Homo sapiens: one gene and its partner. The protein of the gene in region 2 interacts with the protein of the main gene of each other region in a biochemical or structural test. Each region holds a gene or a part of one and is shown on either strand. Other genes may lie near its edges.

Region 1 (7,000 bases), on a different chromosome or scaffold from region 2:
TACAACAATTTTTATTTCTTCTAAATATCTAGCAATACCCAATTCAATGGATTCTACTGATTAAAAGCAAGAGACATTCTATGCAACAGACCTCTCCAGACCTATTTCTAGTGGGAAGTCAGTAAGACATAGTTGGGAGTTACCAAACTTATAGCAAAGGTCCTTCTGATCTCACCACATTTTATTTTATCCCTCATGAAACTTCTCATATTGTATCTCTATTACAGTTATATGTGTAATTCTCTCACTTCCCCTACTCAAAATGCCTTTACTCAAATTATTTGAGAAAGAAATTCATTAAGCAGTGAGTGAGAGGCTGCAAGGTGGCAGACCTGTACCTGACAATGGGTATACAACAGTGGACAAGAGACTAAATCACAGCCATCACTGAGTAGAGCAGGAGACAGACATTAAACAAAGAAATTCATAAGTAATTAACTGAAAATAGTGTAATAAGGCTACAGCAGTATAGAGATTAGTAGTCCTATTTATGTTTGCATTATTCAGTAATATCTAGCTCAGGGCATCAACAAACAGTACAAAAATGAGAGTGCAAATGAATAAATAAATGGAGAATGGATGAATAAATTAAGGAATTATAAAAATTAAGAAAAAACTAATCTGTTTATTTAAGTGCAAATTATTTTAGCTTAAATTATAATGGTGTTCTGGCGGTGGGGGTCGGGGGTTGGTTCTACTATAACCAACTCCACACAATATGGGCCATAAAACCTGCCAGGTTTTCTGTGCTGTGGGCATGTTCAGAAGAATGTATGTGACTCTGTTTTTTCAGTGCTATCCTTTTGCTATCACAGGCTTCATCTATCTCTAATGTTGTGACAACACTTGTAAAGCACAGTCTCTGCTTCTTTATGTAGAAAGTCCTGGGTTTTTGTATCAGGCAGAAATTTCTATTAATTATGAGATTCTAGTATAGCTCTGCTATACCTGTCTGTATGATCCAGTGGCACTGGTGGTTCTCCAGTGACAAAGCAAAGCTGATGAGTGTTGAGTATCATTCCAATGGAAATAGTATTCTCATTGTTGGGAAGGCATAACTCAAGTGGCATATGTAATTATAATCTAGCACCCAGCAACACTTGGGGAGGTAGTGCTTAAGGAGATGGGGCAGGACAGACAGGCATGCAGTCAAACCTACCCAACCTTTTTTCATTATTTTCATCAGAGCACCTCCCTGTGAATAGATATCTTCCAGTATTTCATTCTAAGAAGAGTCTCAGGAGTAGGAATATTATGAAGAAACCTCCACACACCTCAATCTTTTGCAGAGTATTTTCCTAGTATCAATGGTTCTAGAACTCAAATATATGACATCTTGATTTGTACAGACCAGAGGGGGCTGAACTCTTCAGTTGCTTACTTTATGGCAGTGGTTTTCAAAATGTACTTTGAAGAACCCTAGCAATTCTTTCAGGGACTGCGAGGAAGGGGCCAAGAAGCAACTACTGGGGCTTCTACAAGCTCACCCACTCTACATATTGAGCAATTTGATATATTGGGCCTTCACAAATGCCTTCTGGGTAAACACTGTGGTCTGTTTATGTCTTCTCCTGAAAACTAAGCTTCTCCTGAAAACTAAAAACCTTAGTACATTCTCCTTTGCCTTCCATTATTTAAAAAAATAAAATCAGACTGCATACCATTTTCTGCCTTTGGTCTGCTTACAAGAAAGCTGCTGTAGTAGCAGAAACAGATACATTCTATGTATAATGTTTGGCATGAACAAAAATTATTTGTGACAACAATTACTTAGCTAAGCAAATAACACTTACGGTGAAATTGTGCAGCCTGAGGCATACGCATGATGTCCTGTGTAGCGAATGTCACAGCGCACAACATTGTTGGTATAGTCAGATTCAGGAACCAGGTAGCTGGGGTTTACACTGACCTGGGCAACACAAAGAGTTCCTCAGTATTTCTTTTTCCATAGGGCTACAATAAGGAAATTGTTAATGAGGACTTAGCTAAATCAAGCAGGGAAGGGATTTTAACTTAAGTAAGTGGTTAAACTCTGGAGACGTTATGGAAAGAGACTGCATATTTTCCCCTGAAGTTCTTTAAAATAAGACAGATTAGATTAGATTAGATTGTTTATAAATAGTTTGAGGATGTATAATTGCTTCCAATACCATGATTATTTAACATTTGAATCCAGAGAAGAGGGCCTATTGATCTGCAATATCAATATATGATATATTTTCAAAGGTCTTTACCTTTAGGATATAGTTTCCAGGTTTTACATCTGTAATATCAATCCACTGGCAGTCTATGTCTGCACCATAGGTATCATAACAGCCAGGACTCAATCCCTAAGATAAACAAAATAAAAAATTTAAAATTATGGTATGTGGTCAGACTATGATAAATAATATGCTATTATTTGCAAATTAAATTTTAAGTTAGTACTTACAAGAGTCTGACATAAAACTATACTTATATTTCATCTCCCTTGAGAAGTATTTATTACTCAGCCTTATAGCACCTCCAGCTAAAAAAGATACAGGACTAATATAAGTAGTAGTACACCTCACTTCTTAAAAGTGTCATATATCACCAGAGATAAATGCAATCTGAAGGAACAAAATAGGCCTCTACCAAAGTTCTAGAATTTTAACAGTTCAGGAATAAAGGCCACATAATAATTATCTTAGCTCAAATGTCCTCTTCTCAGTGAAATCCTCCCCAGTTTCCCCTTTTGGAAATTACCTTCTTGTGCTTTGAACGTCCATGATACTTTTTATTGTGGATAGCTTTTACAGTGTTTATCCCTTTTTGCTCTGCATTATAACATGCTATGTAAGAATATAGCTAACCAGAGGCTGCAAGTTCCCTAAGGGTAGAGTTTACGTTGTATCTTTGAATAACTAACATTTATTAAATAGTATGTGGCAGGAACAATCGTAAACATTTATATGTGTGTGTGTGTGTGTGTGTGTGTGTATAAAAATTCAATTTTCACAACTACATGAGGGGCTATTATCTCCATTTTATAGATGAGAAAACTAAGGCACACTAAGATCAAATAACTTACCCAAGGGTATCCAGCCTAGTAAGTGGCTAAGCTGGTTTTGAGTTTAGGTAATCAAGGTCCAGAGTCCCTGTTCTTAACTACCCCACTATACTCTCTCTCATACAGTCACTGAAATATGACATATTTTGTTGAAGGGGTAAATGCATGACTAAATTGATGAATGCCACATCACTCCACTTGCTAAAATATTCACATCAATAAGTAAATGAATGCCTTCTACAGGCTGGGAGGAGAAAAATATAACAAATACAATCCTTGCTTTTAAGAATGTTATAGTCTAGAGAAGTTTCCTCAGATTGGAGTCTGTAGGTATATTCTTGATTCCATTAGTTCTTCACAAAAAGTTTTAACTTGTATTTTTATTCTAATAGTAATTTAAATTCAAAGTACATGCTAGATTCATTTTAACTCAATACTGCCATTCAATTCTAGCAACCAATATTGCTTTGCTGTTTAAGATCACTTTGGTCACCCAAGAGACAGTAAAATCACCTTAGCATGCTCTACCAATGCTGGTTTAGCTGTAGCTTGATTTGGGAAGAGCAGGGGAGAATTGTGCTGTCATAGAGCACACAATAGCACAGACAGGCCCAACTCAGAAGGGTCAGTGTCACAGCAGTGAGACTCATATTCTGTTGTTATTATCTAGATTCCTACCTTGATCCATACATCACTTAACAGTATGTTGAGTAGTAAATATAAAATGAAGAATTTTTGGTCTGATTCCAGCATACAATTCTGATTCTGGCATATAATACATACTCAATAAGTGCTAGTTATTACTTCTACTACTACCACAATGTTCATGACATTGTAAAGGATTCACTGGATTAGATATTCATTTAAGATGGGTTTACATAATGCTTCAGTGCTTATCTTGCCTTCAAATAGACAAAAGAGCCTTAAAAATGCTGAAATTGGCACTCGAGTTCATAAGCTGGCAGAACTTAAGTATAAGCTTTGATTATTTGCACAAGCAAGCAAAAACGAGTTACTAAGGCAAATAGGCATTTCATGTAGGCAAAGTCAAAATATAAAAACAGATTCAATGTTGAATGTTAGCTGAGGCTCTCTAAATCAGCAATTTGAGTTTTAGCAATACATACTATTTGTTACATTAAATTAATAAGGTGAATTCAACTGTTTTAGTTTCGTATATATTTAATATGTAAATTTTTGTCTCAGAACACAAGAGTTATTAATATGTAAAAGTATAAATCTAAAGAAGTTATACCTAGTTTTATGCTTGAATACATTTAAGCAGCATTACAATAAACTAATCTGAGTCATCATTAGGTGATTGAGAGACTATTTTTTCCTTTAAATGAAGTCCATGTGAAAGAGACATTGATCTAATGAAAAAAACAAATATATAAATCGCTCAATGCAAGATTTGGTGAATAATGGTTAAAAAGAACATATATGGAAGATGATTAACAAGAAAGCTACCATATAAAATGAAATGGGGTCACCCCAAAGAAGGGGGGGAACCAGAAGTGCTATAATGTCTACAATCCCAGCTTCAAATATTTCAGAGTGAGCTGTCCAGAGTGCCTCTTTTTGTAAATGGGGCAAATAAACTCTAGGTCCCTTGCACAGGACTTGCAGATCACTGAAAAGGGAATCTGTATATGCACACATGAATAATGTGTGGGTAAGTTACATCTCCTCTTTCTTAAGTAAGTACTGTCCTGGGGCATGTAGAAGTTAACCTTTCCCCCTCCAATTGCTATGATGTTCTAAGCTCAGAGAAAAAAGCAATGGTAACATTTAGGTCACCAAACAGCTTCCTGCCACAGCCCTGGAATTTGCTTCCCAAGATGCCAACTGCTGATCCCTTCATACCCTCAGTTATGTACATTCACTACCCCTTGCCAAGATCTGGGCGGGAGTCAAATTATAATGTCCTTTTACAAATTAGGGTTTCATATGGAAATACTGACATAGATTTTAACTGACACGCATTTTCCAATGATAAAACATGCAAACTGCTTAGTTCAGCACTACTTTAAAAAAATCCATCCAAACAACATCTGACATCAATTATACTGTAGATTTAAATATATATGTGTGGAGAAAGAAATGGTGTCCTTCTGCTCTTATTTGCATTATTAAAAGAGGCAACTTTTTAAAGTGCTTTTAAAGAAACTTATTTTTCCTCCATTTGCTAACCGCAACCACTATTCTATTTTCAGCATAAAACAGAAGGAAGGAATGGTTTCACAGGTGAAAAAACAGAGATATCTTTTTTTACAGTTATTTACTAAGCCGGTTAAGGAATACAGAATGGGTGCATATGTTGTCAACCATTCAGACTTTTTCAGAGAGTAAATTTTTGTTCTTCATTGTGGACTGTAACAAGGACCCACACTGACCTGTGATCATGAATAGGGGCCACATGCATAACTGGAAATACTTCAAAAGTAATTTGGATCATCAAGCCATCATTTGCCTTTTCCCAATTATTTTACATCTTAACAACATGGACCTCAAATTGAATGCTTTATAAAAGAGAGGTGAGAGGAAAGAAAATACTAGACTCATGGGGTATATCATCTACAGTTTTCTTTGAGAACAGTCTCTGTATCCTTTTGATAAAAATGTGTGTGCTCTTCATGAAATGCTATTTAATGCTAACTAACGGTAGATGACCCGTTTCTCTCTGAGGCTTGAGGTTCTGGATTTCAGGGTGCCAACATACCTGTGTGTGTGCAGTACATGCAAATCGCCTGTGGTAGCCATAGTCACAGGATGTGTCTTCAAGACAGAAACTTGCTTTGTGGCCTTCAGCCACTCTCCTCTGGGTGTTGGCATCAAGCAGGTCATAGTGGCTAAACTCATCCATACTGTGGTAATGTCTGATGTCCCACAAAACAAAAAGATGGTGGTCAGTTACATACAGAGAAAGCAATGAAGATATTAAATGACTTCCCCCATGGCTTCACAAATTTGTTTTCACATTAAAATTGAGACCAAATTTATCTTCTAAAAGAGAGATTCATGCTAGGGTTTTTTTTTCCCCAGGACATAAGTCTATCAAAATTGTAAGGTTTAACTTTGCTACTAGGACAAAAGACTTAGTTCAGTATTTTGCTTTCTTATTGTACCCCATTTTGTCTTTGAATATTAAATAGAAATGGACAATAAATTATCTGTGCTTAAGTGAAACTTGCCCTGTGTTCTCTAGTGTATTCCCCTTGGCTGCCACTGCTGATGTTTCATTCCGAAAAGCAGCACATGACTTTTTCAAGGTTTCTATGAGATTTTAAAAAATTGAGTTCTCACATATTTAAAATCATTAGTGAAAAGCAAGGGAGAACTCATGGCATGTTTTATCCACCATTATTATTTAAATAGTACACACTTTTATTTAGAAATAAAATATTCCTATTTTATCAGGAAATTAAGGGACTTATATCTACTTTTGTTATTTCATTAAATGGAAGGTGCTGAGCTGTTCATCTTCCCACATAAGGAAAAAACAATGAGGACTGGCTTGGATTTCAGGAAGTAAGTTTAAGGCCACACATGAGGATTTCCTGAAAATAAACACCCAGGCAAGTTACTAAGGCAAATGATAGAATTACCTTATGCAAAAATCCTTAAATTTAGGATAGAAAAGGCAACCACCTTGGGCTTGATACAGGTCTTTTAAAAGATGGAAGAAGGTCCTTCTGAGCTGATGGGATGTATCATCTACATCTTTCTTTGAGAATGGTTTCTGAATGCTTGTGATAAAAAACGTGTGGTCTTTATGAAATGCTATTTAATGCTAACTAACTTTAGATGATCTTGGCTGTAATGGACTTTTAAAGAAATCCTATCTGTAATGCATTGGAGTAAATTTTATTGAAGTCAATTGCTGTATCCTATCAACAGCTTTAATAAGCTGGGCTTCAGATTTTCCATTTCAAAAGATAACAGGATCTTGTAGTAGATGGGTTATGT
Region 2 (7,633 bases):
AAGCCAATTTTTGAAGATATAGTTGGTTGTATCATGAGTGATCTATTTGCCACCATCAATGGCAGGAACTGAGGCTACATGAAAGTCTAGTTAGCTTTTTGTGAAGTCATGATTTAGTTTGCAAAGGAAGACGTAGAAGCTGATTTTAGAGTATGCTTCTTCCAAGTAAAGCTTGAAAATGCTTTATTTCAGTAAGCTCTAAACATCTTGAGAGTTCTTGAGATGATGTAATGGACATCTGGATTTTTTTTTTTTCTCCTGACAAGCATTAATGCCCTTCAATTTTTGGTGCATGACCAAAATAGTGTTTTGCCCATCTTTTATAGATGAACCCTTTTCCCATGGCATGCAATCTTGTTGGGACTATCCATCAAGATACTCCATCATCCTTTGGCCAGGATTGTGCCCAAGTTCCCTAAATAGCTACGTCAAAAGGACCCTGTCCTTTGAATTTGAACTCCAAGAGGGGTGGCAAAAAGATGAAAATGGTTGGAATTGATTTACTCACATGACATCAGCCTGAAGAGGTTCTCTGCTTACCATTATCCCAGAACTGTACTACTCCCCATTTTATCACAAAGTCAAGTTCAATGAGCCATCTCATAACCTGATAATACTTAAAATATCTTTTTTTTTGCTGAAATTTTCCATAGCTAGTTTTCTTGCTTGTAGACAAAGAACCCTTGCTGACATAGATATTTATACAGGAGGTATAAAATGATGAGAGTGGCTTGAAGCTGAAAATGCCACAAGATTTCAATTGATCATCCTGGTTAACACGGTGAAACCCCATCTCTACTAAAAATACAAAAAAATTAGCCAGGCATGGTGGCAGGTGCCTGTATTCCCAGCTACTTGGGAGGCTGAGGCAGGAGAATGACGTGAATCCCAGAGGTGGAGCTTGCAGTGAGCCGAGATCGCGCCACTGCACTCCAGCCTGGGTGACAAAGCGAGACACTGTCTCAAAAAAAAAAAAAAAAAAAAGAAAGATTTCAATTGATCCAACAACAAACAAAGTATTTGTGTTTTGTCATAGTTTTCAGGACACTAGCAAGTTTCCTTGAATAAGGAATGCCACCTTGTCTTTAAGGATCTATCATACAGCTAGGGGGAGTAAGTACAATGGCTACAGAAAAAAAATATATATTTAGGTTGACGCCAAAGTAATTGCGGTTTTGCTAGTACTTTTAAATGGCAAAAACTGCAATTACTTTTGTGCCAACCTAATAGTTCACTATAGCAACAGAAGAAATATCCCTAATGTCCAGTGCCTGACATGGCACTTGGCATATAGTAGGCATACTATAATTATGTATTAACTATTAAGTGAATGATTCAGTTAATAAGTGCAATGATGTTAGAACAAGAGAGATGGGCATGAGCTAAAACACCTACGAACAAGAAGGAATCTGAGCAAGGTTTCTTAGGGTGAATAGAATTCTTTGAAATAAGGAGATGGAAGCAAGGAATTCTAGCCCATGGACTTAATTTGCAAACAGTGCAAAACAACCTATTACGAAAAAAAAAAAAAAAGTCTGTGATAGGTTTAAGGAGAGTTGGGTCCTCAATCATCTGGCATCAAGAAAATCTTATTGCAAAGACACAGATTTTTATTATTCGTTACTGAATTTTGTCATAAGTAGCATGCTACTCTAATACATGTTGATTGCCTAGATAGCGGGAATAGTTCTTGTATATTTAAAATGTATTTACTTTTAAGTAATCAAGTTCCCCCTGCTTCCCCTTCCCCTGTAATCTTCCACCATTGTGGTCAGAACATGAGACTTATTGCTCAAAGAGGGGAGTATATGGCTTGGAGCTGCCACCCAATATGAAGGAAGAATCTTTCCTTTATTGGAGAAAGAGGCCAATGAATAAAGAGGAGGTTGCCGGGGAAAGCAAAGGCCAGGTAAAAACGTTTAATCCAAATCCCTCCCTTGGAGGTGAAACCCTGGAAGGCAGTTTGAGTTAGAAATAATAGAAATGTCCAGAAATGTTGGAAGAGGGGACTTGCAGGGCACCAGGATTTGGCCTTTACTTCCTGGGCAGAAGCCTTAGAAAAGGCTTGTGTTTGGTTGCTGCTGACCAACATGTCACTGAGTGTAAGATTCTGAGAGAAAGGGCACAGCATGTCTTGCATGCTGCTGGAGTACAAGGAAAGCATGCAGTTTCCAGAGTCCCCTGTGGGTGCAGAGCAGCCCAGAAAACTGGTGGGCAGGACAAGGCCTTTCTGGATGTCCAACAGCCCTGCTTTCTCCTAATCCATGGTCCCTCTGCTCAGATCCTTTTCCCAGTGTGAATTACCTCCTTACCCCTCCCTACCCAGGGAGCTTTAAAAAATATCCATGTGAAGAATCCACTACAGACTACTCAAATCAGAAACTCTGGGTGTTGGGGCCTGGTGTCAGTGTCAGATTTTTTTTTTTTTTTTTTTTTTTTGAGGCAGAGTTTCACTCTGTTCTGCCCAGGCTGTAGTGCAGTGGCACAATCTCCTCTCACTGCAATCTCTACCTCTCAGGTTCAAGCGATTCTAGTGCCTCAGCCTCCTGAGTAGCAAGATTTACAGGCATGCACCACCACACCTGGCTAATTTTTGTATTTTTAGTAGAGACAGGGTTTCACAATGTTGGTCGGGCTGCTATTGAACTACTGGTCTAAAGTGATCCACCCGCCTTGGTCTCCCAAAGTGCTGGGATTACAGGCCCAGGCATGAGCCACCATGCCCATCCTGGTGTCAGAATTTTTTTAAAGCCTCTTATTATTTTACTGCATAGCCAGGGTTGAGAACTGCTATCCTAAGTAGAGTCTAGTTATGTTTTAGACTTAAGTTAAATATCACTTCCTCAGGGATCCCTTTCCTGATCAGCCCTAGCCTAGGTCAAGTCCCCTTGTTATATATCCTCCAAGCAAGCACCCAGTACTTATCCTGTTTGGCGCTTAACAATTGGTCCATTATTTGTTTCAAGTCTGCCTTTCCTTGTTGACTACCTGCTGTGTGAGGGGAGACACATTTCTGCCCTTTTCACTAAATTGTTGAAGTCAGTCGTGTTCAAATTGTTGAACCTGCCTTGTTAAAATTGTTGAAGTCTAGTTCAACAATGCACTAAGTAGTACACAGTTCGTGCTCAGTAAAAACATCTTGAATGAATGATCTCCTTTACTCAGCCAGGAGTGTGTGACCAAGGCTCTCATTCATGAATCTGCTAAGAGACCTTTTGCAGGTGAGACCTTAAAGTACACCACATACATACTTACAGGACTATGGCTTTAGATCAGCTCATAGTTCCCACAGTTTTTCTGTTTCATCTTCATGTATCACAGCAGTTCAGCATGTCCATCATCACCATTACAACCCTGTGTGGTGGACACTACAAGTCCCATCTTGTATTTGGAAAGAAGTTGAATAACTTGCCCAGGTCTCTCTACCCTACTGTCTGGGCCCCTTTACAAACGGTTACAAATAAGGAAAATCCCTTTCAACAAGATACATTCCCAGGGTACCTGTTTGTGCTGAGCTTTTATTATTGGCTTGACAGCAGGCTGGTGGCTGCTTGCAGGGGATCTTCTGGGGGTCTCCAGTTACAGCAGCCAGGACCCAGTGTGCGACTTCAGGCCTTCCTAAACTGTTACAGGGTGCAGGCATCATTGGGCATTATCCATATAAGGATGCCACAAATACTATACCTTTCAAAGCCACTAAATTCACTGTGCCGCGCATATCCTGGGGAGAGGCAGCTGTGTGTGGGGGAGGGCGAGGGGACCGGGAGGGTGTAAGTAGAGTCCTCCAGATGAACCCCAGTCTTAATCTGGGCTGGGCAAGAGGACCATCCCTTCACCGCTCCCATCCTACATCCTAGGTTCCAACATTTACAGGCCCCTGGGTTGGACACCGACTTAGAGAGAGCACCCTGGATTCAGGCCTGGGTGGCTTGAATTGAGCCTCAGAAGAGCCGCGTCTGGAGTGGGCTCTCGACACCCAGGGCAAGTGGGGGCGGCAGAGCCCTCTCCTCGGTCGGCACAGCAGCCTCTGCCGCGGTCCCGGCCTGCGACGCGCCCAGTCTTAGCCTCCCGGCCTCCGGCGTCTGCTGAGTGTCCGGCGGGAGAGGCGCAGGGAGCGCGCTACCGGGAGGCGCGGGCAGCGGGGACTGGTTTTCTCTCGGGCCAGGGCCTCCGGGGCAACCGTCTCCAGCGCGCATTCTTGGTGCAGGTGGAACAGCTTTCTGCTCCGGTAGGGCTTCACCTATCGCGGGAGAGGTTAATCTCGGATCTAAACCTCGCAGCCGCAGAGCGGGCTAAAACCGCTACTCCACCTCTTCCCATTTCTCCCCTCCCCACCTCAAGACAAAAAGTCCCAGGCCGGGCAGGACCTGATCACCTCTGCCTCCTCCCACTGCGCTAATCCTGCGAGCGAGAGGCCCCGCACCGAGGCGGAGGCTGGCAAAGGGGAGTGGAAAGGGAGGATGGATGGGGCCGGGGGGTGGGGTGGTGATGAGGGCGACGAAGGAGGGGGTGTCATTTTCTTTTTCTTTCTTTTTTTAAAAAAAGTATTTCTCTCGCGAGAAACCGCTGCGCGGACGATACTTGAAGAGGTGGGGAAAGGAGGGGGCTGCGGGAGCCGCGGCAGAGACTGTGGGTGCCACAAGCGGACAGGAGCCACAGCTGGGACAGCTGCGAGCGGAGCCGAGCAGTGGCTGTAGCGGCCACGACTGGGAGCAGCCGCCGCCGCCTCCTCGGGAGTCGGAGCCGCCGCTTCTCCAGTGGGTGCAGCCGGGGTCCCGACGGGGGTCGGGCGGCCACCGGGGCTGGAGCTGCGGCCACGGAGGCTTTTGCGTTTGCGCCGCGCCGAGGGCAGGGACAGGGACTGGGGTGAGGGGCTGTCCCGGAACGTCCACAGCTGGCGCTGGCCCTCCCCTGCCTGACAGCTTCCTGGCCCGGGGCTCTTGGTGCCGGGCTCCGCGTCAGATGTTCGGGGGGCGGTGGCATCGCCCGGAGTCGGCGGGGACGGCGCGGCTGGCTTCCAGCCTGGCGGAGAGGGCAGGCTGAGGAGTGGGGCGTTCAGAGCGCGCATCGCGCGCAATTCGTGCCGCTAAAAAAAATAAACCCAGAGAGCTCGCCCGGGGCTTAGGACCGCTGGGGATATGGGTACTTTGCGCCGCGCTCTTCTGGCGGGGCCCGGGAGGCCGAGGGATCGGCCGGGGCTGCTGCCGCCGGGGGCCTGGGCTTTCCAGCCAGCTGTGGACCAAACGGTCTTCCCTTACCCAAATTAACTGCGCCACGCGCAGGCGGCGCACGGGTTGGGCTTGGGAATGGGGACCGCGAGGCTTCAGCATCCCGATGCCCTGAAAGTCTCCCCGCCTCGGGGATTTGTCTCTGTGTTGCAGCTGGCAGGGGCCGCCTGAAGTGGGAGCAGCGCCTGGAGAAGGCGGGAGGAGCCCGGCCCGGGGGACGGGCGGCGGGATAGCGGGACCCCGGCGGCGCGGTGCGCTTCAGGGCGCAGCGGCGGCCGCAGACCGAGCCCCGGGCGCGGCAAGAGGCGGCGGGAGCCGGTGGCGGCTCGGCATCATGCGTCGAGGGCGTCTGCTGGAGATCGCCCTGGGATTTACCGTGCTTTTAGCGTCCTACACGAGCCATGGGGCGGACGCCAATTTGGAGGCTGGGAACGTGAAGGAAACCAGAGCCAGTCGGGCCAAGAGAAGAGGCGGTGGAGGACACGACGCGCTTAAAGGGTAAAGGAACCGGTTCCCTCCTTTGGTGTGGGTCTCCCAAGTTTCAAGATCCAGAACAACGGGCAGGATGACTCTCCCTGTGGAAGACTCCTTGGCAAGACCTCCTGGGGGCACCTTAGAGGTGCTAGGGTTGTTTAGTCCCCACCCCGTTCGTGGTTAAACTACCTTGCCCCTACTCCCAGAGATTTCTGCCCCAAAGGAGAGGACGTGGTTAAATGGAATCTTGGGCCATTGTTGAGGCAGATTTTGGGAGGCGAGAAGAGTTCCTTGGGGAAGAAGGGGAGGAGTTGCGAGTGGGATAAGAGGAGAAGCCCGTTCCTTTCCCTGCAATATCAATTCTGGTTGTTTCTAGAGGAAAGTACTTTCCTTGGGGTCATCTTGGTAGATGCTGTATTTGAAAGGGGGCAAGGAAAGGAAGGGATTCCCATGACAGTCAGAGGAGAAATCACACAGTAGTTGACTCTTCCGTAAATTATGCTTATTAAAATTACGGATTGGGTTTTCTGGGCAATGCTTCCTTTAGATGTCTACATTGGAAGCAGAACAGGGCAAGTGGTTCTGAGAACTGGTTTTTTGAGTTGTGTGGGGCTCTCCGTTTCACTGCAGCAGTAAGGCTGCTGTGGCCGGCCTTAAGGGAGTATTTTTAACTAGTGGTGTTTGTGTTGTGTACATGCAACTGACCATTTCACTGGCTTCCCATGCCGCTGTTACAGATGTTTCAGCCGGAAAAATTTTAATTAGACTTGACTAAGGGTTGTCATTTTCCTGTATTGAAGGACAGTGGGAATACATTTCCTTTAAGAGAAATTTGTCTGCAGTTGTTTAAGTTAAAGCCTCCATGGAAACAACAGGATGGACTGTCAGTGACCCCTTTTATCTTCTTGGAGGAGCCTGTTAAATAAATTCAGACAGTATATATAGGGAGATTTTGTATTAAATTCTTACCATTCTCGCTGATGCTCTTTTCCTGAGTGGTTCTGTAGCTTTATTATATAGCTCTGGGTCACCAAGTGATGGTATCCACTTGGATATGTGGCTGTTCATTTCACTTACTCTTTTTTTGTTATGAGGTGTTATAGTCATGTATATGTAGTAAAATTTGTGTTTGTATGGCCCAGATATGAGAAGAAAAAGTAAACTCACCAGACCAGTTTTTGACTCCTAGTCTGGAGTAAGGACAAGATGATTGTATGAGCCAAGCACTTAGGCTGTGATAAAATAGCACAGAAAATAGTTATGATTAATTCGGTTCCATCTTGGCCTTCGTGGAAAATAAACCCAGAATTCCGATAATGTTGGAAGGAAGTTTGCTTATCATGGTAAACCTGACCTTGATCAGACAGCAGATGTTTATTGCCCTGTGTGCAAGGCACATGGCAAGTTCAATAAGTAGACTGAGGCTCTGATTTTCATATGTTCTCAAGAGGACCTCATTTAGTCCAGTATTTTTCCTTCAAAAATACATTTCTCCTACATAATAATATCTTAATATCTATTCTGATAGGATTGCTCCTGTATATAAAGGACGTGGGGATTTAATTCTGTGGCTGAAGATCTGCAGAGAGGTGTGAGGCCTGGTCAGACATTTGTCTCATTTCTCTGGGCTGTCACCAACTAGTGTGTTCCCTTGGGAATGTGAAAAAAGAAACTAAGCTTTACTTTGTTGCTTAACAGGATGCCACACTTTTACTCACACTTGTGCTTTTTCTCTCTGGTTTTAAATTTGTTTGTGATTATAGAGAGATACCTCTCTGTGCTCCTCACAGTATTTGATCATTAACACAGACCTTATCCTATTGTAAACTATTTATAAAGCCTTCCTAAAAACAGGGTATTAATAGAATTGTAATTATGTGTGTTCCTAATTCTCATGTTAATTATAAGATTTTATAATAAGTGATATATAT

What was found. The genes of interacting proteins can lie anywhere in the genome.
Region 1: the proteins of FBN1 (region 2) and LOX form a complex in vitro, tested with the Homo sapiens proteins (one study listed by IntAct).

Annotation. Positions count from the first base shown.
Region 1 is NC_000005.10:122,068,260-122,075,259, forward strand, and holds part of LOX (protein-lysine 6-oxidase isoform 1 preproprotein), read right to left. Parts: intron 5,911-7,000; coding exon 5,754-5,910; intron 2,331-5,753; coding exon 2,235-2,330; intron 1,910-2,234; coding exon 1,794-1,909; intron 1-1,793. UniProt on the Homo sapiens protein: Responsible for the post-translational oxidative deamination of peptidyl lysine residues in precursors to fibrous collagen and elastin. Regulator of Ras expression. May play a role in tumor suppression. Plays a role in the aortic wall architecture.
Region 2 is NC_000015.10:48,642,699-48,650,331, reverse strand, and holds the start of FBN1 (fibrillin-1 isoform a preproprotein), read left to right. Parts: upstream 1-4,622; 5' UTR 4,623-4,757; intron 4,758-5,361; exon of another isoform or gene 5,362-5,381; 5' UTR 5,382-5,562; coding exon 5,563-5,726; intron 5,727-7,230; coding exon of another isoform or gene 7,231-7,297; exon of another isoform or gene 7,298-7,633.